2 separate regions of the Homo sapiens genome follow, and region 1 is linked to region 2. The links come from fine-mapping of genetic effects on gene expression. A gene starts in region 2. The other region holds a variant in brackets. All regions are shown on one strand. Distances are between the middles of the regions. Region 1 overlaps ZCCHC14 (zinc finger CCHC-type containing 14). Region 2 holds the start of ZCCHC14 (zinc finger CCHC-type containing 14).

What was found.
Region 1: its variant is fine-mapped to the expression of ZCCHC14 in whole blood (INTERVAL, PIP 0.98).

What each region holds. Positions count from the first base shown.
Region 1 is chr16:87,455,047-87,466,696 of GRCh38, forward strand. It overlaps ZCCHC14 (zinc finger CCHC-type containing 14), which reads right to left. Exons shown (of 13, transcript NM_015144.3): 2 at 4,962-5,085. Among named protein-coding and RNA genes, the nearest start is that of ZCCHC14, 32 kb to the right of the region's middle. RefSeq lists an enhancer at 2,127-3,326. The variant T/C (reference allele first, on the strand shown) is at 5,085.
Region 2 is chr16:87,487,142-87,498,791 of GRCh38, forward strand. It overlaps ZCCHC14 (zinc finger CCHC-type containing 14), which reads right to left and starts at 5,883. Exons shown (of 13, transcript NM_015144.3): 1 at 4,528-5,883. The coding sequence starts at 5,097. It overlaps ZCCHC14-DT (ZCCHC14 divergent transcript), which reads left to right and starts at 7,046. Exons shown (of 4, transcript NR_110943.1): 1 at 7,046-7,094. RefSeq lists a silencer at 5,822-6,001.

The DNA of each region.
Region 1 (11,650 bases), 32 kb before region 2:
GGGAGGCCGAGGCGGGCAGATCACCTGAGGTCGGGAATTCAAGACCAGCCTGACCAACATGGAGAAACCCCATCTCTACTAAAAATACAAAATTAGGCAGGCGTGGTGGCACATGCCTGTAATCCCAGCTGCTAGGGAGGCTGAGGCAGGAGAATCACTTGACCCCAGGAGGTGGAGGTTGTGGTGAACCGAGATCGTGCCATTGTGTTCCAGCCTGGGCAACAAGAGTGAAACTCCGTCCCCCCCCGCCCCCGCAAAAAAAAATACTGGAAAGTGAACGACTGGCTCTCAGGAGATACCATGAGCTGGCCTCGGCACCCCAATGAACAACACAGTGACAAGAGGCTTCTGTGTCACATGGAGTGGCTCAACATTAACTCAGAGTAGAGCCTGAAAAGGTAAAGATGTGTAGTGCATTCCTGTTGCTTCTCTTAAATGGGGGGCTCATAGAGGGCGCAAAGTCCTAGCGTCCTACAGAAGCTCTTCTACGATGAAGAACTTGACTCCTCCTGTGTCTCTAATCACATTTTCTTCAGGGAAATTGAGAAAACCATCACTCAAATGATTCTCTGTGCCCTGGGGTTCAAATCAGAATCCGTGGCTGAGGAATGCTACAGGCAACCAGCTTAAAAATAGTAAGTACAGATGGTCCCTGACTGAAGATGGCTGGAGTTGACGATTTTTCGACTTTACAACAGTGCAAAAGCAACATGCATTCAGAAGGAACTGCTTCGAGCGCCCATACAACCATTCTGTTTTCCACTTTCAGTACAGACTCAATAGATTACATGAGTCAAAACTTCACTATGAAGTGGGCTGTGTGTTAGATAATTTTGCCCACCTGCAGGCTAATGCAAGCGTTCTGAGCACATTTAAGGTAGGCTAGGCTAAGCCATGATGTGTAGCAGGTGTGGTGTATTCACTGCATTGCAACTTGTGGTATTTTCAACTTGCAGCCCCCACTGTAAGTTGAAAAGCATCTATGCGGTAAAATGGAACTGTCTAATCTAGGTGAAGGGTACTCACTGTGAAACTTTTTCAACTTTACCGTGTGTTTCAAAGTCCTCATAATAAAATGTTAGATAAAGAACCCATAAGGAAATTGAAACTATCAAGGCTTCTCGATTTCGGCTACACACTGGAATCCCAGCACAACCCAGGAAAGGCCACAGACTGTGGGCATTTTAGAATTTAGATTTTAGGGCTGGGCGCAGTGGCTCACGCCTGTAATCCCAGCACTTTGGGAAGCCGAGGCGGGCGGATCACGAGGTCAGGAGATCGAGACTATCCTGGCTAACACGGTGAAACCACGTCTCTACTAAAAATATAAAAAAATAGCCGGGCGTGGTGGCCGGCACCTGTAGCCCCAGCAGCTACTCCGGAGGCTGAGGCAAGAGAATGGCGTGAACCCGGGAGGCGGAGGTTGCAGTGAGCTGTGATTGCGCCACTGCACTCCAGCCTGGGCGACAGAGCAAGACTCTGTCTCCAAAAAAAAAAAAAAAAAAAAAAAAAAAAAATTTAGATTTTAGGTGAATTCTTGTCTTCTTAGAATTCATGTTCTAATTGGTTGGGATAGATTTTGTTTTGGAGTTTGGTCTTTAGCTCTCTTCAGCTGTAACAACGCTGCATGGCAAACACAAACCCCAGGGGCACACAATGGAAAACATTCATTTAAAATAATTTTTAAAAACTCAGTTTTAATCGATAATATGGTAAATACCTATAGATGTGACCCACATAAACATGGATTCTTTGGAATCTCTAATTTTTAAGAGTGCAAAGGGGTCCTAAGACCAAAAAGATTGAAAACTACTGGTATATAAACAAGTTTAATGAAAGTATACCTCCTTCACTGTCTCACAAAAAGAAAACTTTAAAAAATTATAATTCCTCAAAGTCCAAAGTTACAGAACTTACTTTGTTGAGAGTATTAGTAAAAGCAGTTTCCATCTCAGCTTGTACACTACAACAGCTTCCCTAAGTTTCAGTAAATCATCAACACAGGGACTGGAGCGCTGGAGAGTGCACCGCAGTTCTCAGCCACACCCACGAGGGGCAGGGGGCTCAGAAGCCACACACAGTGACCTGGAGCTGCAGCCAGGCACTGGGTACGGGGTTTACTAGGCTACAATCTCTACTCCTGAACTGGAAAATGTTCACAATAAATAGGTCAGGAAAAAAAGGAATGATTTCACTGGTTAATGTGTACTCATAGGCACTGCCCACACAACGGTGTGTTTTCCACTTTCAGTACAGTCCCACCTTTCTTTTCCTCTGCTATTTTCTTCAGCCAGCCACAGGGTTAAGAGCATTAGCTCTGGCTTTGAATCCCAGCTGACCTCAGGAAAATTTCTTATCTGTGACTCAGTTCTCCCATCTGTAAAATGGGGTAAAAATCACCACATGGGATCAGTTAGAATTAAATAGGTATAATCAGCCCTCAAAGGGCTGTTATGAAGATGATGTAAGTCAGTATCTGTCATGTAAGTTAGTCATGTGCTTGGACTGTTGTTCAAGTATATAAAAGCTTCCCTAACCTTTTACATACTAAGAAATTTTTTAAATGTCTGACCACTCTATAAATTAAACTGTATCACTGTAAGACTTCTGAAGAAGCAGAGAAAAACCAAAACAGAAGTAGGATACAGAAAAGACAGAGAGAAAACTTTATAGTAATAAAACTATACAACTTACTGTGACTTTAGACTTTCTGAAGGGCAATAACCTGCACCCAACAGAATATTAAAAGGATTCACATGAAAAGTGACTAAGAAAACCAAGTTAACTCACTTGCCAATTTCCGGACAACAGAAACCGCGACCCTCTATGACTAATGAATGGAGAATGCTGCAGGTAATTAAGAGCGTCTGCTCGCTGCGGTATTTTAAGCACTGTGGGGTTTGAGAATGACCACTCGTGGCCTCAGAGCCGACCCGCCAGCCTACGCAGGCTTTGCCACAGCTCACATGAGAGTCAGCTCACCCTCTGTCTCTCTGGGCACCAAAGCATGCAGACGAGACAATGACAGATACTCGCTACTTTGAAATTATACAGAAAAAAAAAAAAAAGAATGGGGATGTCAATAATTACATCCTGAAGAAAAAGCACTGAAGGGTCCATCCCTTAAGATTCACAGGGTGTGCAGGGCACAGGTTCCTAGGCTGGACTGTCTGGGGACAAAGGAAGCGGCACTCCACGGCAGGCCTTTCTCCTGGGATGGCATGGGGGAAGGAAGAGGAGGAGCCCTTTCTACAGCGGAGGGACTCCCTGCAATTCCGACGCCAAGTGTCCGCTCTGGGGTTGGAGCATCGCGGCATCACCAGGATGAGGGTGCGGTGAAGACGCTCAACCAAGAGCCACAGACCCTCCCAAGAGCAGTGGATAAGACAAAGACTGTTGCGACCTCAGGGGGTTGCTACGAGGGTCAAGTGGGGACAGGAGCCCTCGCAGGGCTGCAGTAAGGAGTTACTGTCTCCATACCATACCGTGCTCATTACATCAACAGAGGCTGCAGCTGCTGGGGAAATGGGTCCTTCCTGAGTTAGGATCTAAATCAGAGACAGGTGGCTCTCGATGGCGTTGTCAGAACGGGACTTTAGAAACAAAGCAGTTATGAAGCCTGTGGAAGGCACGAAGCGCCGTGCCAGGGACGGGGACGGTGCGGGGCGGTTGGGGGAGAGCGCACAGGGTGAGCGAGTGCGGCTCTGGGCCTCACGTGGCGCACCTGCTAGGAGACAAACATCTTTGTAAATAACACAGGGAGAATAGAGGCCAGCAGATGCGGACACAGCCGGCCTCGGTACCTCTATGCCATGGGGGCTCAGGACCAGTGACCCCACTGGAAAGCGCCACCCTGGTCTCTGTCTCCCCACTACTGACGATTCTGCAAACCACACAAGCATTTATTTTACCGGGTATGCATTATCTGGTCCATCTAGTCCTACAAACCACCTTACTCTCCCCTCCCCAAAGCCTCCACTACTATGGCATGGTTACCAACTTTGCAGCTGATCATAACACGGCAGAGGCTGGCGTGCAGAGCCACAGGGGCTCAGGCCGCGCCTCACTACCCACGCTGAGCTGTCCACGTGTACGTTAAAGAAAAATAAAGACTCAGGTAGCCAGTCACATTAGCCATGTTTCAAGTGCGCGGAAGGCACGTGTGGCTGCTGACAACCAACTCAGTGCAGGTGGAAAACACTCCGTCACCACAGAGAGCGCTTCAGGACAACACCGCTCTAGTGGTTAAGGATGATTTCCATGTGGGGTGGGGAGGAGGGTGTAAAACTTATTCCTCCCACCCTTTTTTTTTTTTTGAGATGTAATCTCACTCTGTCACCCAGACTGGAGGGCAGTGGCACGATCTCGGCTCACTGCAACCTCCACCTCCTGGGTTCAAGCAATTCTCCTGCCTCAGCCTCTCAAGTAGCTGGGATTACAAGCGTGCACCACCAGGCCTGGCTAATTTTTTTTTTTTTTTCAGACGGAGTTTTGCTCTTGTTGCCCAGGCTGGAGTGCAATGGCGTGATCTTGGCTTACCACGACCTCCGCCTCCTGGGTTCAAGCGATTCTCCTGCCTCAGCCTCCCGAGTAGCTGGGATTACAGATGCCCGCCACCACGCCCAGCTAATTTTGTATTTTTAGTAGAGATGGGGTTTCTTCATGTTGGTCAGGCTGGTCTCAAACTCCCAACCTCAGGTGATCCGCCCACCTCAGTCTCCCAAAGTGCTGGGATTACAGGTGTGAGAAACCACGTCTGGACTTCTCCTTAAAAAACATCAATAATTGAGATTTTTACAGCCAAAGCATATTCATGTATTGCTTATAGAATTTAGAAAAATACACATAAGATTGGCATTTATGAAAGATCTGAAAGCATTTAACAATGCCCTCACGGGGATCTGGGGTGTGCCCATCCTCCGTCCGTCAGACGTCCTCCTGAAACCCGTGCGTGCACTCACCTTTGCTGTGTTTTCCTAAGGGCCTCTTGGGCAGCGACTCCTCCGTGGAATGTGCTGATGTGTGCAGGGCATTCTCCAAACTATTACTGACACTGCTGACAGGGGCCTCAGTTCTTGGAGTGA[T/C]CTGAGGGAACAGAAACAGAATCATCTTATTTTCTCCCACGGAGTTAATAGGGGACAATTTTATTTGTTAATTAAGTCTTTCATAATTACCTTGGTTTCCATTTTTCTACAAAACATGTATTATTATAATAATAAGCCTTCCCCAAGAAAGATGAAAATTTCACCTACTACTCTCCACTGAAAGTGCAAAAGAGCTCAGATAACTTGAGTCAAACACGGGCGCTTACGTCTTGTGGCTGGGGTTCATCGGGTGCACAGAAACTATGGTAGCCAAAGAGGCCGGGCACGGTGGCTCACGCCTGTTATCCCAGCACTTTAGGAGGCTGACGCAGGTGGATCTCTTGAGCCCAGGAGTTCAAGACCAGCCTGGCCAACATGGTGAAACCCCATCTCTATTAAAAATACAAAAATTAGCCAGGCGTGATGGCAAGTGCCTATAGTCCCAGCTACTCGGGAGGCTGACGTGGGAGGATCACTTGAACCCAGGAGGCAGGGGCTGCAGTGAGCCAAGATGGTGACACTACACTCCAGCCTGGGCAACAGAGTAAGGCTCTATCTCCAAGAAAAAAAAAAGGAACTATGTTAGCCAAGGTGGCATGAATTATATATTTTTATTTGAGGCAAACTTTTATTTTCATATTTCTTCAAATCAAATAGCTCCCTATAAAACGAATTACACAGCAGGACTTAACATTCTCCTTCTATAAATCTTAAATCATAAAATGCTTTAAAAACAACAGCAAAGAACAGAATACAACTCGGTCTATTTGGGGTACAGTTTGAAAAAGCATATCCTAAAATTACATCCCAATTCCATTTCTAGGAATTCACCATACCAAGTACTCACACGTGAGAAAATGACCTGATGGGGTGTGCCCACTGCAGGAGTGTCTGTGACAGGGAAAGCGGGGCACACCCTCAGTCCCCATCGACAGAGACCTGCTAAGCACAGACAGTGTACCTGCAGGTGACGGCCGCCCCCAAGCTGTGGGTGGGGGAGGCCCTCCTGACCACCAGTGCTCCCAACACACAACAAGCGCAGAAACAAGCCACGGGCTAGCCAGGCTCGTCCCACCCCTCCTGCTTCCTGGGTTCAGTGATGGTGTGAATGTGGAATAAGCCGGAAGGGGCCCAGAGGGGCGAGAGGAGGGGGGTAGCAATAACCTTCATTCCCTCCCCATCAGTATTTTAAAATTTCACAGCCAAAACACATTTATAACTTATAGGATTTAGAAGAATAAAAATGGCCAATGCTGTAACTTCTTTACAGTCTCAATGTATTTCAAAATTTCGGAGGATATGAGAGGCGTAAGATTTTAAAGTTCATCAAAAGAGCTGATAAGCAATGCTGCATTCACAGTATGGGAAAGTACATGGCACAAGCAGCCTGGAAAATGGCCTGACCTCTCCAGCCTCCACTTGTTCTTTCATCTCATACCTGGACGGTAGGTGGCAGTTGACCAAAACATCCCCTAAGTTCACTCACAAGCACAGATCCCAGCACTCGCTCTGCAGAGGGCTGGCCAGGTAGGCGTGGCCTCGACCTCAGACAGGATGAAAGTGGAGGCGGAAGCTGGAGTTGGGAGGAAAGGGTGGAGACTGCTGCCACTCCGGCAGGACCAGCACCTGCTGTATTCCACAGACAGCAAGCCACAGGGGCCACACCCAAGTCCATAGCGAGATCCTCTGATCCCAGCTCTGTCAATGCCCCTGCCCCCCAGCAAGAAGCCCTCCTGGGCTGTTCATGCAGGGAGAGGGACTAACAGATCCCACGCGGCTCAACAGATGCCTTCCAAGAAAAGCAACTTGTCACAGGGCTACATAATTGGGAAGTTTATGTAACTCGAGAAAATAAGGCCGGGCGCAGCAGCTCATGGCTATAATCCCAGCACTTTGGGAGGCTGAGGCAGGAGGACTGCTTGAAACTATGAGTTTGTTACTGGCCTGGGTAACAGCGAGACCCTGTCTCTATTTAAATTTCTAAAAAAGTAAAAAAAAAAAAAAAAGTCCTAGCCATGCAGCAACTCCTCCAGAAAGTCAATTCTTTGGATAACTTAATAACATGTTATCAAGAAAATAAAATTTTTTGAATTTCTTATATTTGTAATTTAAATTGGGTGATTTCCTTCCGATTTAACAAAGTCTCTTTCATTATTCTATGGTTAGAGAACCCAGAAATGAACTCCTTTCCCACTAAACAAGATAATAGAACCGATACAAGTACGATACAAATCTTACACAAGGAGATTTTTAGTTCCAAACAGTACATATTACTTTGCAAGACAACTCAGGAGGTTAACACATTAACTGTACAAGAAACACAGCCAAGGCCGGGTGCAGTGGCTCACGCCTGTAATCCCAGCACTTTGGGAGGCCGAGGCAGGTGGATCACAAGGTCGGGAGATCAAGACCATCCTGGCTAACACGGTGAAACCCCGTCTCTACTAAAAATACAAAAAATTAGCCAGGCATGGTGGCGGGTGCTTGTAGTCCCAGCTACTCGGGAGGCTGAGGCAGGAGAATGGTGTGAACCCGGAAGGTGGAGCTTGCAGTGAGCCGAGATCGCGCCCCAGCACTCCAGCCTGGGCGACAGAGACTCTATCTCACAAAAAAAAAAAAAAGAAAAAAGAAAAAAGAAAAAAAACAAACACGGCCGAGGCCAGGCTTAGTGGCTCACGCCAGTAATCCCAGCACTTTGGGAGGCCGAGGCAGGCAGATCACCTGAGGTCAGGAGTTTGAGACCAGCCTGACCAACATGGTGAAACCCGTCTCTACTAAAAATACGAAATTAGCCAGGCATGGTGGCGCACGCCTCTAATCTCAGCTACTGGGGAGGCTGAAGCAGGAGAATCGCTTGAACCCCGGAGTTGGAGGTTGTAGGGAGCCGAGATTGCGCCATTGCACTCCAGCCTGGGCAACGAGAGTGAAACTCTGTCTCAAAGAAAAAGAAAAAAAGAAAAAAGAAACACAGCTAGGTGCAGTGATTCACACCTGTAACTCCAGCACTTTGGGAGGCCAAAGCAGGAGGATCACTTGAGGCCACGAGTTCAAGGTCAGCCTAGGCAACATATTGAGACCCCCATCTCTACAAAAACACAAAAATTAGCTGGGTGTCGTGGCCTGTGCCTGCAGTCCCAACTACTTGGGAGGCTAAGGTGGGAGCATCGCTTGAGCCCAGGAGTTTGAAGCTGCAGTGAGGTATGATCATATCAGTGCACTCCAGCCTGGGCGATAGCGAGACCCTGTCTCAAGAAAACAAAAGAAATATAACCACAGCAGAGCCCATTCGATTTGGCCTGATGCATGAACCTCCACATTCTCTTAGCTACTTTGGTACATATTCTAAGTCCTGGTTCTAAGAAGAGAAAGTGAGCTGCCTTTTCTCTTTTTTAAGAGACGGAGTCTCAGCTGGGCACGGTGGCTCACGTCTGTAATCCCAGCACTCTGGGAGGCCGAGGCGGACAGATCACCTGAGGTCAGGAGTTCGAGACCAGCCTGGCCAACATGGTGAATGAAACCTCGTCTCTACTAAAAATACAAAAACTTGCCAGGTGTGGTGGCGGGCACCTGTAATCCCAGCTACTCGGGAGGCTGAGGCAGGGGGATCGCTTCAACGCGGGAGGTGGAGGTTGCAGTGAGCTGAGATTACACCATATTGCACTCCATCCCGGGTGACAGAGCAAGACTCCGTCTCAGGAGAAAAAAAAACAAACAGAGTCTCTTCTGTCACTCAGGCTGGAATGCAGTGGCACAATCATAACTCACCGCAGCCTCGACCTCCTGGGCTCAAGTGATCCTTCCACCTGAGCCTCCTGAGTAACTGGGACCACAGGTGCACACCAGCACGCACAGCTGAGAGTGAGCTGCCTTGACAACCAGCATCAGCAGTTCCAACTTTGCTGGTAGTGGCAAACCTTCCTGCCCCAAAAAGAAACACGTGTGATCAGTGCGTTCTCGCACACACACACCGCCTGCCCACCCTAAAACACTCCAAAGAGACACAAAGGAAAGCCAGCCTCCCAACTCTCAGCCTGCTAGGGGAGGAAGGGGAGAGGAGGGCTGAGCAGGGGAAAACACAGCCTTGGAGAGAAGGAGAGCAGTACTGATTAGTGCTTCTCGGCCTCGACAGCACACTGGAACACCAAGGCCCTGAGAAAACCACATCCCACACTCCCCACCAAAATCAGAGTTTCTGGAAACGGGGCTTCTTTTGTTTTGTGCCTGAAGCTTCTCTGGTGATTCTAATTTGCAGCTAGGCTAAGAACCAACCACGACCCCAAGTCCAGGTTTTATACTGCACCCATCATCCGGTCCAATCCCGGCAAGGACAAAGAGGAGACCCAGAGAAAACAGGAAGTCTTTTCCCCACGCAGACAGGAAGAGCTAAAGGCTGTAGGTCCGTCTGCCACAACCACAACTGGAAGGGGAAAGCCCGTGAGCCACCCTAGCAAAACACACACTGCATCTGACATCAAGACAGGAAGGAAAACTCTTTAGAATGGCAACTGCTGGAAAAGAAAGACCTGTTTTCCTCCGTATATTTTCCCAAGGAATTTCTTCTTAGTTTTCCACATGTTCACTTTTTCCAACCAAGCCTTTATCGTAACTTTGTTCCTTTGTTTACATTGAAAGCTGTCTTCACTTGTGTTTCCCAGAAATGCTGTTTTGGGGTTATTTTTGGTGAAGTTAGTTTGCTCCACGTGACCTATGTTCCACTCAAGTGCTCTCTGACTCAGGCTCACCCGCAGGACTCGTCATCTGGCCTGATGTGCACGAGAGGGAAGACTGACCGGCTCCAAAGGCTGCCTTCTGCTACTGCTAGGAAGGCAACGATAAGCTGCTCTCTTCCTCTCCACAGCCAGCCTCTTCCCACAACCCACAAAAACCCTCTGCCTGGCCCCTGCAACCTGGCATCCAGTCCTCCCCCAGCTCTTCACTCCATGCACTGCTGCCCTGGGCACAGCAGTCACATCTGCCTGGGGCCTTCGCCCTGGCTGTCCCCTCTGCCTGGAAGCGCCCCTGTGCCTTCCCATCTATACTCAAACGTCCTTCTTAGCAAGACTTCTCGATGCTCAGCAAGGCAGCTGTGTTTCTGGTTTGCTTTGTTCACTGCTGTTCCTTTGCACTTCGAACTGGGCCTGGCATGAAGCAGGCCGTTAATAAGGATCTGTAAAATACATCATGATATCACCAAATTTTAATGAAATTCAGAATCAAACGGAAAGCACTTCTATTTCAAACAAAAACTTCTGCAATCTACATTATGTAACAGACAATCAGATTGTTCCACCACATCTACAAAGCGCTAACCCAGGAATGAAATATGACTCTGAAGCAAGCTACTGGTAGTCACGGGGCACACCCGCCCCTGGGGCTCTTCCAGGAAAGCTGACTGAGGTTCCACAGTGGCCACACATCTAGGGGCACCTGGACTTGGGCAGCCCGCCTCTGGCTCTTATGCAATCACCCTTCTTACTGTTACAGTTTAAAGAGAGGAGGCCTCTGCTTCCAAACTTTAATGTGCAAAATGCCTCCGGATCTGGCTGAAACGCAGGTTTGATTCATGAGGTCCGGGGTGGGCCTGAGAATCTTGCATTTCTAACCAGCTCCCACATGATAATGCTGCTGCATGAATATTTCAAGGTAAATCTTCACCATGATCAAAACAGTCAAAGGCTCAACAGCCTCCTCTTATTTTTTTATTAAAAAAAAATAAACAGAGCCAGGGTCTCACCATGTTACCCAGGCTGATCTCAAACTCCTGGGCTCAAGCCATCCTCCCGCCTTAGCTGGGATTACAGGCGTGAGCCACCGAGCCCGGTCTCCGCAACGTCCCTTTAGATGGGATGGAAAAGGGAATCCCCGCACTGCGCAATTAGACCAGAGGGAATCAAAGGCCCTTCCAGGCAAGGGTGAGGAGCTACGCCTGCAGAAGAGCTGACGCTGGCTGCAGGTTGTGACCCCCGCTAACTACCCCCCGCCTCAGGTATTTACGCTTTTTTTTAAAAAAAGGTTTGTCCTTAGTTCATGCCGCCTGACAGAAAAAAACCCAGCACCACACAGGCTACTTTACAGCTCTGTGCTTACAACCCACTTTAATGTTCACGGACCTGACCATAACTTTTAGAAGAGAATTAATTTCTAAAAATCTATTTCCTGAAAGCTCTTCCAAAGACATCCAAGTGGGACGTGCTGACGCAGTCAGATGGAAGCACAGCCCCCCAACACTGACGGCAGCCTCGGTCTGCAGAAGACTCGCTGCACCCCACTGGTGGGCATTTGAAAACTGCTCAGAAAAACGGCAGTGAGCTTTTAGAGCAGGGTTTTAACCTTTTCTTTGTGCCAGCGACCTCTCTGGCAGTTCGATGACACCTACTGAGCCCTTCTAAGAAACATATTTTAAATGCATAAAATACACAGGACTGCAAACAAAGCCAATTATATTGAAAACCGTCATCTAAGTATTAGAAGACAAATGGGCTCCTCGAACAGAGTCTGTGGGTCTCAGCTCACTTCACAGGAGCGCTGAGCATGAAGGAGACTTGAAGACGCTTTCTACGACTGTG
Region 2 (11,650 bases):
TTTGTGTCTATCTGAAGTTTCCACAGTGCTTATCCTCAGGCACTCACAATGCAAGCCACAGAGAGTTCCAGAACTGTTCCACAGAACCTACCCCTAAAGAAGACCACCACCCCACCACACTCCTGCACCAAAAACTTTAAAAACGTTATTTTTTTTAGTACCCCCTTAAAAAAATCAGCCCCATGAAGCAGTTCATTATCCATACCCTGAGGATGCTGAAACACAAACGGCAGGGCCCTCACAGCTGCAGCTCAGGCGGGGCCCCGCCCCTGCCCACCAGGCCCTGCTCCCCCATACCTGTCGCTGACCAAATGCACCAGCCCGGAGGCTCTGTACTGACAGCACAGAGTTCCCTGCCACCTCCAGCTGCAGCTCCCCAGGCTGGCTGAGGCCACACCTACACAGCTCTGCACACGGCACCTAGCAATCCACCAGGTGGAACAGGAGCCCTCAGGACAGCCCCGCACCGACACGTGCGCCAGCGGTCCACAGAGGATGCGCTAAGTGTTAGGCACAGTGCACGGGGGTGAAGACAAAGAGCCTATTAACCATGAAGACAAAAGTCTACAAAAGCAAGCATGTGAAGCAACTCCAAGGTCCACCCGCTGAAGAATGCGTGAGCACAGCTCGGCCTCTTCACACAGGGGAACGCCACTCGGCAGCGAAAGAGGAGGAAGTGCTGACACACCCACAGCATGGACGGGCCCTGACATCACGACACCGAGTGAAGGAAGCCAGTCACAAAGGGCCACACGGTGTGTGGTCCCCTTATATGCAACGTCCAAAAAAGACACCCATAGAGACAAAAAGGGGTGGTCAAGGGTTGGGGGGAGGGGGAATGGGGAGCGACTCCTAATAGGCACTGGGTTTCTTTTTGGGGAGATGGAAACGTTCAGTGGCAGTGGTCGTGCTTGCACAGCTATATGACTATACTAAAAACCACTGACTTCACTGTAAAAGGGTGAAGTATATATAGTATATGAATTCTCTTTCAATAAAGCTGTTATTTTTTAAACAAGAATAAGCATGTGCACATACCACAGCATATTAATTATCACTGACACAAAGAAAAAGCCGCAAAGGATTTATTTTAACTATTTCCAAAACTATGGTCTTTTATTTACGTAAAATAGGCATTGGAAAGTCTAAGCCAACTATCCCCCACAGTTGGCACCCTGGAACAGGCGACTGCAGGAGCAGCAAGCAGCAGCATTACCGGCCACTAGGCAGAGTACAACTAATTCAGCCTACCATCAGTGTGGCTACTGGAAGTATTTTTCTTTCTGAAAGTAAAATACAGGTATGTCTACTTTGTACTCCCCCCACTTTTACACCTCTAGAAGTCCTCAGAATAATAAGAATTTTTAAATAAAAACACAGGATTTGGACAAGGAATTGCAAATAATGACTATTTCGGAAAATACAGTTAAAATAAATTTAAAAAAAATTTTTTGAGACACAGTCTCACTCTGTCACCCAGGCTGGAATGCAGTGGCATGATCATACCTCACCTACAGCCTCTACCTCCTGGGATCAGGTAATCATCCCACCTCGGCCTCCCAAGTAGCAGGGACTACAAGTGTGTGCCACCACTCCTGGCTAATTTTTGTATTTTTTGTAGAGACAGGGTTTTGCTGTGTTGCCCAGGCTGGTGTTGAACTCCTGGGCTCAAGCGATCTGCCCACCTTGACCTCCCAAACTTCCGGGACTACAGGCGTAAGCCACCTTGCCAGGCCAAGAAATAAAAATTCAAATTGGATAAAGAATTTAAAAAGCCATTGACATTTGTATCTCTAAAAGAAAAATACAAAGTCTCTAAGCTCAAAGAGTTCAAAATAAAATACAACAGCTTACAAAAGAATGCAGACAGCTTTAACGGGGCTGCTTTTTCAGGAATACACCAAACGTTAGATTTAGAAACTAAGAAAGCAAAATACTTAAATGCTAGATTTCATCTGAGTTGCATGCTCCAAGCAATAAAGGGTTCATCAACGTCAGCCTTAGCTTTGAAGCAGCAACAGAAACGAAAGTTAAATGAATGGGGCTGAAATTAGCTTAGCAGTGACACTAGGGATGTAGGGAAAACTAGAAACCACGGTTGTTTTGAAATACGGAAATGACAGCCCAAGGTTACTCCTTATAATAATCCTCTCATTAAGGGTCACAGAATCTTCCAGTTTTCCAAAGATGAAACAAAAAAATTGTCAGCTCCAAGTAACTACTCAAAAACCAATTTAGAACACATAAACGCTCATAGCCAAGATGTAAATAATTCAATCTATAAAACATGCCTTGCTTTAAGTTAGCAAACCTCTATAAAAAGGAATGTTAAAAGCCGGAGAGGCCATAGAGGAGAAAGCAGCATTTACTGCACCTCTGCTGGAAGCTCATGTATGTTACCTATGTAATCCTCAACACAAGCCTGTGAGGTAGGTTACATCCCCTCCACTGCAACAGGGACAACACTGAGGGGCAGAAGGATCCTGGCCAAGGTTGCACGGCTGGTAAATTCAGCGCCCATGGCCTTGGGACTGGGGTGTAGCGGGGGAGGTGCAGGGGTGAGCAGAGAGGAATAGATTAGCCCCTTCATCTCATCAAAGGGATTTCTGCTTCACAGAAAGGCTCTCCTATAAAAGACATTTTTGTTCTAGATTTAGCTCACTGCCCAATCAAAATAATAATCACCACTGTCTGCATAAAGTGAGGCACCCGTGCTCACACATTAAGAATCCCCTTAAAGAGATGACGTTACTGTAGCAACAGCCATAGAAATTATTAGTGGGTGGAATCTACACAAAGGAGTAACAGCACATGAAACTGACCATAAATGACTGAGATTCCATGAATAGGTGACAATTTGCTGGCATGTCAAGGCTTACATGGATTACTATAAACAACTACATTTCCTAGGACCCTCTGCACAGCACACAGCCTGAAATACAGGGTGGGAGCCGAACTTAAAAAGAAAACTATAGTCTTGGAGGTAAATGTCACACACACAAAAATCAATTTAAAAAAACCGATGTATGTACTACAACCACTTCTTACAGGAAGACATTAAAAAAGAAAAGCCACAATCTACGATTGAAAGACAGCTTTAAAAACACACACATAAAAAACCTAGCAAACCAGACGGTGTTCTCAGCCACTCATAAAAGCAAAGTCTTATCAAAGTTTTAACTTCAAAGAGCTTAAAGACACTGCAAAGAGACACTGAGCAAGACTTGGTCCCGACTGCAACCTATTCCCTTCCAAAAAATAATCAGTTTGTAATCTAAATACACATCACACCAGGTCAAAGTAATCTCTTCCGGCAGCAAAATTTTGGCACTGGATTGCAGGGGGCTGTTCAAAATAGCTGGAGCCCCAGACACTTTGCGTTTTCAGTTCTGAAACACTTAGACAAAAGTTCACATCGCTAAGTGGATGGCCAGGACGCCCTTCCGGTTCAATTTGGAGACCGGAGATCTTTAACCTAACCTAACATTCCTTAAGGCATCGGTGCCCTCCCACTCAAAGTCAGCCTGGGTTTTGTTTCTAAGGGTCGCCAATAAATAGGTTTCACGGGCATTTAAGGCTCTGGGAGTCTTTTTCTGTCTGTTACAGGTAGCCCGGCTCTTAAAAACGATCACACACAACGTTCACAAGCATGTGCACATTCATACACACGTGTGCACATATACATGCCCACATGCGACACACGCGTACATCATACAGCATGCACGTGTCCATAAATGAGCTCACACGGACAGCCATGTCCCGCGCCCAGGCCCCCAGCGACACAGGCCCCAAGCAGGGCCTCCACCTGTGTGGAGGGAGCGGCTCAGACGGGGAAGCCCCAGCGCCTTGCAATGTTCACCTCACCGGCGGCTTCTGGCGTGGCCACGGCTCCTTCCTTTTCTGGTAATAAATACCAGATTTGGGGAAACCAAGGCGCCGCAATGTGTGTTATCTGTCACCCAAGGGCCCCATTAAGGGGACAAAGGCCTTATCGCGTTTGCAGCCGGCTAAGTGAAAGGAGGGCACCTGGGACTGTGAGCTCTGACCGCGGACGTCTCCCGCACCGCTCCCGCGGATCCTCGGACCCAGGGCCCCTGCAGCCGCTCCTGCCCAAGGGGCGCGAGGCGGAGGTGTGGAGGCTTTGGGGCACGCAGAGGGGACTGAGGGTGTGGGCTCAGGGCCGCGGTGCGGTCTTGGGGCTTAAAGTGCAGACTTAGGGTGAGGAGTGCGGGCTTAGGATGGGGGCTTGGGATGTACGGCGGAGGCTTGGGATGTACGGCGGAGGCTTGGGATGTACGGTGGAGGCTTGGAGAGGTGGGGCACACATTTGGGGTGCGACATAGAGGCTTAGGATGGGGCTTGGGATACGGGCTGGGGGCTCGTGGTGCAGGTTGGAGACCTGGGTGGGAGCTCTCAGTGCAGGCTGGAGGCGTGGGTCGGGGGGTCGCGGTGCAGGCTGGAGGCTTGGAGTGCAGAGTTGGGGATGCAGACTTGGGGTACAGGGCAGAGCTCGGGGCGGGCACGCACCTTGTGGCAGGCTGGGCAAGTGGGCAGCGCGCCGCCCGGCCCGGGCGCGCCCTTGCCGCCGTGGCCCCCGCCGCCGTTCAGGCTGCTCTGGATCTGCGTGAGCTCCTGGCGCAGCACCTGCTTCTGGTGGAAGCTGAAGGCCGGGTGGTTGGAGGCCATGGTGAACAGCAGCAGGAACTCATCGCCCGTGCGGCCCTCGTTAAGCTGCAGCCCGTAGTTGTGGATGATGGAGTCGATGTGCGTGAGCGTGCGGTAGAGCACGCCCGCCGCCTCGCGCTGCTCCGAGCCCAGCAGCGCCAGCGACACCAGCAGCTTGCTGCGCACCACCTCGTCCGTCAGGTTGGTGAGGCTGCCCAGGTCGGCCGGGTTGTTGGCCTTGATCTCCGAGTCGCGCAGCGAGTGGTAGTCCTTGCGGGCCAGGTCCTCCAGGCACGAGCCGAGGAAGCGAAGCTCGAGCGGGATGCACAGGTCCAGCAGGCCGCACAGGAACTCCACGCGCTGCGGCGACGGCAGCTCCGAGAACCAGCGGTACACGCCGTCCCTCTGCAGCGGGCAGCGCTTCTCCACCATGCTGCCGCCCGCGCCGCGCCGCGACCCGGGGCCGGGGACCGCGCGGGGGCGGCCGGGGGGCGCCGGGGGCCGCGGCCGGGGCGCGCCGGGACCGGGGACGCGCGGGCCGGGGCCGGGTCCGGGCGAGGGCGCGCGGGCGCCGCGGGCCGGGCGGGCGCCGGGGCGGGGGCGGGGACCGGGGCCGGGCAAGGCTCCCGTCAGGGGCCGGCGGGCGGGCGCGCGCGGGGCGCCGGGGGGGCCCGGGGCGGCCGGGGCGGCCGGGGGCGGCGAGCGGCCTCGGGCCCCCCGCTCACGGGGAGGCGCCTTCCCCGCGCCCGTGCCCAGCGGCGGCCGGTGCGCGGCGGCGGCGGCGGCTGCTCCTCGTCGTCGTCGTCGTCGTCGCCCGGGAGGCGGCCGCCCCCATCTCCCCCCGCGCCGCAGGGTCTGTCACTGCGGGCCGCCCCCCGACGGAGCCGCCCCGGCCATGCCGTCGCCGCCGCCCGCGCCTCCGCCCAGGCCGGCCGTTACCCCGGGCCGCGGGCGCGGCGTCGCCGCCTGGGGAGCGCTGGGGGCCGCGGCCGCGAAACGGACGCTGGAGGGGGAGGGACGCGCGGCGGGAGGCGCGGAGGGATCCGGCCGGGACTTGCCGGCCTTGCTGCTCCCGCGCGGCGGACGGATCCGGGCCCGAGCGCGGCGGCGGCGGCGACGGCGACGGCGACGGCGACGGCGACGGCGGAGGAGGCGCCGGCCGAGGAGCGGAGGGATCGTCGCGCTCGCGGCTGACGGGCGGCCGGGATCAGCAGAAGTGGGCGGGGTGGCCGCCTCTCGCGACAGCCCGGGCCTGCCGGGCCCGTCCCCCCCCCACTGATTGGCTCAGGCGGCCCGTTCTCGGCCCGTGATTGTGCCGGGTCCCCAATCCCATTCGCCCGTTCCGCGGCCACGCCTCCCTGGGGGCTGTCGATCATGTTGGGGCCACCGCCTCCCGTCCCTCGGCGGCCGTCAAGACGCGATTGGTCCGCGGAATCGGAGAGGCGGAAAACCCGGGCTGGATTTCTGGTTGCTTTTGTTCCCGCAAATTTGCGTGGAGCATTGTTTTTCGGCGAAAACGGGGCGTTCGGCCTTCCTGCTTTATTTTTGAGCGGTGTAAGAGGGAGGTAGTGGGTATCTTCGAGAAACGGCCGCCGCGGGGTCCGGAGCCCCGGGTTCCAATCCCGGGTCGGCCACTGCAAAGCTGTGTGACCTTGGGCGAGTCACTTGGCCTCTCTGAGCCCCAGGCGCCTCCCCGGGAAAAAGAGGGTAATAATAACCGCCCCCGAGGTTTGTGCGAAGGTGTTGAGCTCACAGAGGGCCGGCACCGGCACTTTTGAGGCGGCTGACTTGCCCTGGGGGTGTGATGGGAGGTGCAAGCTTTCTCCAAAAGCCTCGTCCAAATGGAGCCTTTAAATCCGCCTTCTTTCCGCGGCTACTTCACCAGCTCGCCAAACGCAGAAAATGCAAACACAGGGGAGGGGGCAAGGGAGCTGACCTGGCTGGAAGTAAACAGAAACGCCACCCTCCCCTGGCACTTGCATTGGCACCGGATTGCAGGTGGGGGAAGGGCCGGTGCACCCAACCACCTTTAAATCCCACCACTTACACACAGGCATAGAAGTAGAGCCGCGGGGGCTGGACGCTCATTCCTCCCCTGCCCTTCCCCTAGAGCGCTGCTTTGAATGTCTGTTGATCTAGAACGGGGTCTGTTCATTCATGGGTTCCAGGTCCCAAGCGCCCGGGGGCAGCTGAGAGCAAAGCTGGCGCCCTCCCTACCCTGTGGAGCTTACACTCTGGTTCTGGGCAGTGCACACTAGAGATTGGTTAAATCAATGAATGAACTTTTTCAGGATATGGTCCAAGGTGCTGAAAACTTCCTAACAAAACTCTTCAGCCGAATCTGGCACGCCTGTGGTTCCAGCTACTGGGTAGACCGAGGCAGGAGGATCGCTTGAGGCCAAGAGTTTAAGACCAACCTGGGCAACATGGTGAGACCCCCCCTCCCCGCCCCAGTCGCTCCAAAACAAACAAACCCCACATTCTCCAGTCTTAGGTCTTCGAGGATGAACAGAGATTGCAGAAAGGCATGGTTGGGAACAAAAAAAATTGCTCTCCACTCCCCCAGCCCCCTCCACACCTTGGGCACATTTCCCTGGAGCTGCCCCAGTGTTCTTTGTCAGTGTAGGAAGAAGCAAAAATCTAAATGGAGTCAGGATGGCCTCCCACATGGGCACAAGGGCAAGGCTGGGGACAGTTGGGTCTCCTCATCTTATTTCCCAGGTCTAGGCTGATTTCTATTAATAATTAAATTAATCGTCGTTGTCCTGGACCTCACTTCTTAATGTGATTCCAGGGAACTGGCCACATTCCAAAATTCATAATCTAAGGTAGTGAAAGAACGTGAACATCAAGACAGTTTGGCTGGGCTCAGAGGCTCACATCTGTAATCCCAGTACTTTGGGAGGCCGAGGGTAGATCCCTTGAGCCCAGGAGTTCGAGACCAGCCTGGGCAACATGGCGAAATCCCATCTCTACAAAAACTACAAAAATTAGCCAGATGTGGTGGCATGTGCCTGTAGTCCCAGGTACTTGGGAGACTGCAGTGGAAGGATTGCCCGAGCCCGGGAAAGGGAGGTTGCGGTGAATGGGGATCCCGCCACTGCACTCCAGCCTGGGTGACAGCGTAAGACTCTGTCTCAAAAACAAAACAAAACAAAAGATTCATTTCTTATTGATAAAGCAAGCTCCTTGGAGAAAGATCTTGGAACCTCATTAGTGCTGGGGGTGGGGGTGGGGCTTCTTCAATCCAGCCGAGCTGGCTGTGAAACCCCCAGGCTTTGGTACCAAGTGAGCTCCAGTCCCAGCTGTGGCTGACTGTGTGAACTTGGCTATGCATTCAGAGGCCTCTGAGCCTCAGTTTCCTCATCTGTAGAAGACAGCCAGGAACCCGTCATCCTGGCTAGCAGTGGAAGTCAAAGGTGCTCATGGAAAGCCCTTGCTGGCTGGAACAAGGGAGGCCTGAGCTGTGGAAGTCCTTGGATCAAGGTCCTCCCCACTTCCCGCTGCCTTTTTGGTCCTTCTTGCGTGCTCTTTGTGATTTAATGGCTTAGTAGGTTGAATCATGTCCCCCCAAAGTTTATCTCTACCCCAAATCTCAGAATGTGACCTTATTTGGGAAAAGAGTCTTTGCAGATATAATTAAGGTAAGAGTCAAGATAAAATCACACTGAATTAAGGTGAGCCCTACATGCAATGAGACTGTCCTTACAAGATACAGAAAAGAACACATAGAGACTTCGGGGGAAAGGAGACTATGTGCAAGAATGGCAGAGATTGGAGCCAAGGAGTGCCTGGGCCTACCAGAGGCTGCAAGAGACAGGGAGGACCCTCCCCTAGAGCCTCCAGAGGGAACAGAGCCATGCCCACACCTTGACTTTGGACTCCTGGCCTCCAGAACTGTGAGAGGGTAAGTTGCTATTGTTTTCAACCCCCAACCCCCACCCTCCCCCACCCCCCGACCCTCTCCCACCCCCATCTCCCACCCCTCCCCCATCCCCATCTCCCACCCCCCCCCCACCCCTCCCCTACCCCCATCTCCCCACCCCTCCCTCACTCACGCGTGTTGTGGTTACTTGTAGGGCAGCCAGGGAAACCGAAACAATGTCATATCCCCCCAGACATCGGTGTGGCTCAGCTCAATCCAGTTCACAACAAATATGAAATCCCTGCCCTACAGGACCAGGCCTCAGGAAGGGCTTGGGGGCCTCAGAGGCAAATGAGACCAGGTCCATCGACCCTACAGAACTGACAACCTGGACTCCCCACTCTGAAGCAGGCAGGCTGCCTGAAGGAGGGGGCCTCCCTCATAAGGAGAGGGCAGACGCTGACCTCCCGGGCCCTCCAGCATTCTCTGGGTCCTGGCCCCGAGATTCTGGTTTTCCACACAGGGCACCTACTGTCTCCCGCTTCCCTGACTCTGCCCGTGCACAAGGTAACCCCAGCTGCAAGCGTGCCAGGAGCTTTTCTCCACCTCTGCCTCGACATCTGCCGCCTCTCCTCCTCTGGAGAGGGAGGCAGCTGAAGGACAGCAGCCCCACGCCTTGCTGGAGCGGCTGAGATCGCTGGGAGGAGGTTGGGAGAGGACTCAGGGGCTCAGGCTAGATCAGGAGGGTGGGCCCTGCCTCCTTGTGAGGGGGCCCAGCACCAGGGGGAGCCCACAGTCTAGGGTGCTGTTCAGCCAAATTGGCTACCACTGGGTGTGAGGTCTGTGGTTGTGCAGGGTTGAAGGGCTGGGTGTCATTTGCCTCTGAGGCCCCCAAGCCCTTCCTGAGGCCTGGTCCTATAGGGCAAGGATAGACTATTTATTGTAAACTGGGTTGCGCTGAGAGCCACACTCATGTTTAGGGGGAAATGCCATTTTATTGGTTTCCTGTGACTGCCCTACAAATAACCACAAAGAGGCGAGGGGAGAAGTGGGGGCTGTCCCTTCCACAGAGCTGCAATCAAGCACAAATGACTCTAATAGTATCAATTGTGAGAGAGAGAGAGAGATTTGGAGTTCACCACAAATTCCCCAAACAAACAATTTTACAAGAAGGACATGACCCGCCTGGCGTTACTGCTTAGTTCTGAATGAGTGATACCGACTGCAGCAGGTGACCAGGCCAAGCCCAGAAATGGGCCACAGGGACCCCAAGCACATGCTCTTCCCCCAGACTGCCACCATCTTGCTTTTCCTTCAGACCTAGGACCCCACGAGAGGAGGGATCTGGAGGCCAAGCCAGGAGCAGGACAACACCAACAGAGGCCTCAGAAGAAGACTCAGAGTGGGACAGGGGCTCCTTAAGTGATTGGGGCTGGAAGTGCGCAGAGAAGCCCGGCGCGGCAGGGAATTGTCTCTCCCTGGGGTGCTGCCAAGGTGTGTGTGGTCTCTAGCTGCAACGTGCGCTTCCTTCCCTTGGCCTGACTCCTGCTTTCCTGTCATTGAGAAGGTTTGGGACCTGACACCCTGAGCATGGAGGCCATAAATCCAGTGGATCCCTAAATTTCCTGATGGGGTCCTGGCTCCAGGCCTCGGTGCCTGACAGCCTCGTGTAATTGACAAAACCCCATGGAGCTGTTTCTGATACTGAATTCCCATCACGCAGATACTGAATGGTCAAGGGCTTCAGCCCGGGCCACACAGTTAGTTCATGTTGGAATTGGATTCTGCCCTAAGTCAATTGCCCATAGACTCTGCCCCTCCCAGGAGGAAACCACAAATGTGACATATTGTTTATTTGCTATTTTTGCAAAGGTGTCTGTTGCTTGCCAGCTTTTCCAGCCATGACTGCAGACAAAGTCCACCTAGAGTCATAAATGGGCAATCAGCCCCGAACAACGTCCAGACCCGGTTTCTGCACGGCGAGGCGTTTTTGTCCATGGCAGACTTGCTTACCCGGGTGTCTTTGGTGTGGGGCTAGATGCAGCATTTCCCCAGTGGGAATGGCCCGGGGTCTTATTTAAAGTGGAGGGTCCTAGGCCTGGCCCCACGTATGGAGTCAGGGTCCCTAGGGGTAGGACCTTGGAATCCGCATTTTTTTTTTTTTGAGACAGGGTCTCCCTCTGTCACCCAGGCTGGAATGCAGTGGCGCGATCTCAGCTCTCTGAAACCTCTACCTCCTGGTTCAAGCGATTCTCCTGCCTCGGCCTCCCGAGTAGCTGGTATTACAGGCACGCACCACCATGCCTGGCTAATTTTCTATATTTTTAGTAGAGATGGGGTTTCATCATGTTAGCCAGGCTGGTCTCCAACTCCTGACCTCAAGCCATACACTGGCCTCCGCCTCCCTAAGTGCTGGGATGACAGGTATGAGCCACCGTGCCTGGCCAGGAATTTGCATGTTTGCTAGTAACCCTGCTCATCTCAGTGCACACCAAAGTTTGAAACCACTGTTGGGGTGTGGAGCTCTTGCTTCCAGACTTCCAGGGCCTATGGATTGAACAACGGCAGCCACAGTAGTAATTAGAATTTTCAGTCTCAACCACAAGCCTGCCACGCAACAAGGGTTTCCTCCCGTTTTACAGATGAGGGACCTGAGGCTTCATAAGGCTGTTATTGACCTGAGGTCGCACAGCTGATGGCTCCTGGGTTCTTAGCGTTAAGTTTTGCGGCCTTATTTCTGTTGTATATTTGTTTCTCGTATTTCTGTGCTTCTTGCACTGCAATTGTGATATCCTCTAAAAGCCAAGGATGAACTCACTGCTGACCTTGGTTTTATTTGTTTGTTTGTTTTCACCTTCACTTGTGAAATGTGCAAACATACTCAAAAGTCAAGAGAATCATATGGTGATTTTTCATAGTCCCCTTTGGCCAGCTTCAGCAAAGATGACATTTTGCCACTCTTACTCCATCCATTTCTCTCACCCCACCCCCGACATACACACATGTTCTTTCTGGAGTATTTTCAAGCAAATACAGGATTTTTAAAAACATGTAAATGACTGTGTTGTTTTGTCTGATTATGATGCAATACATGTTCCTTATGAACATATTATAACTCGC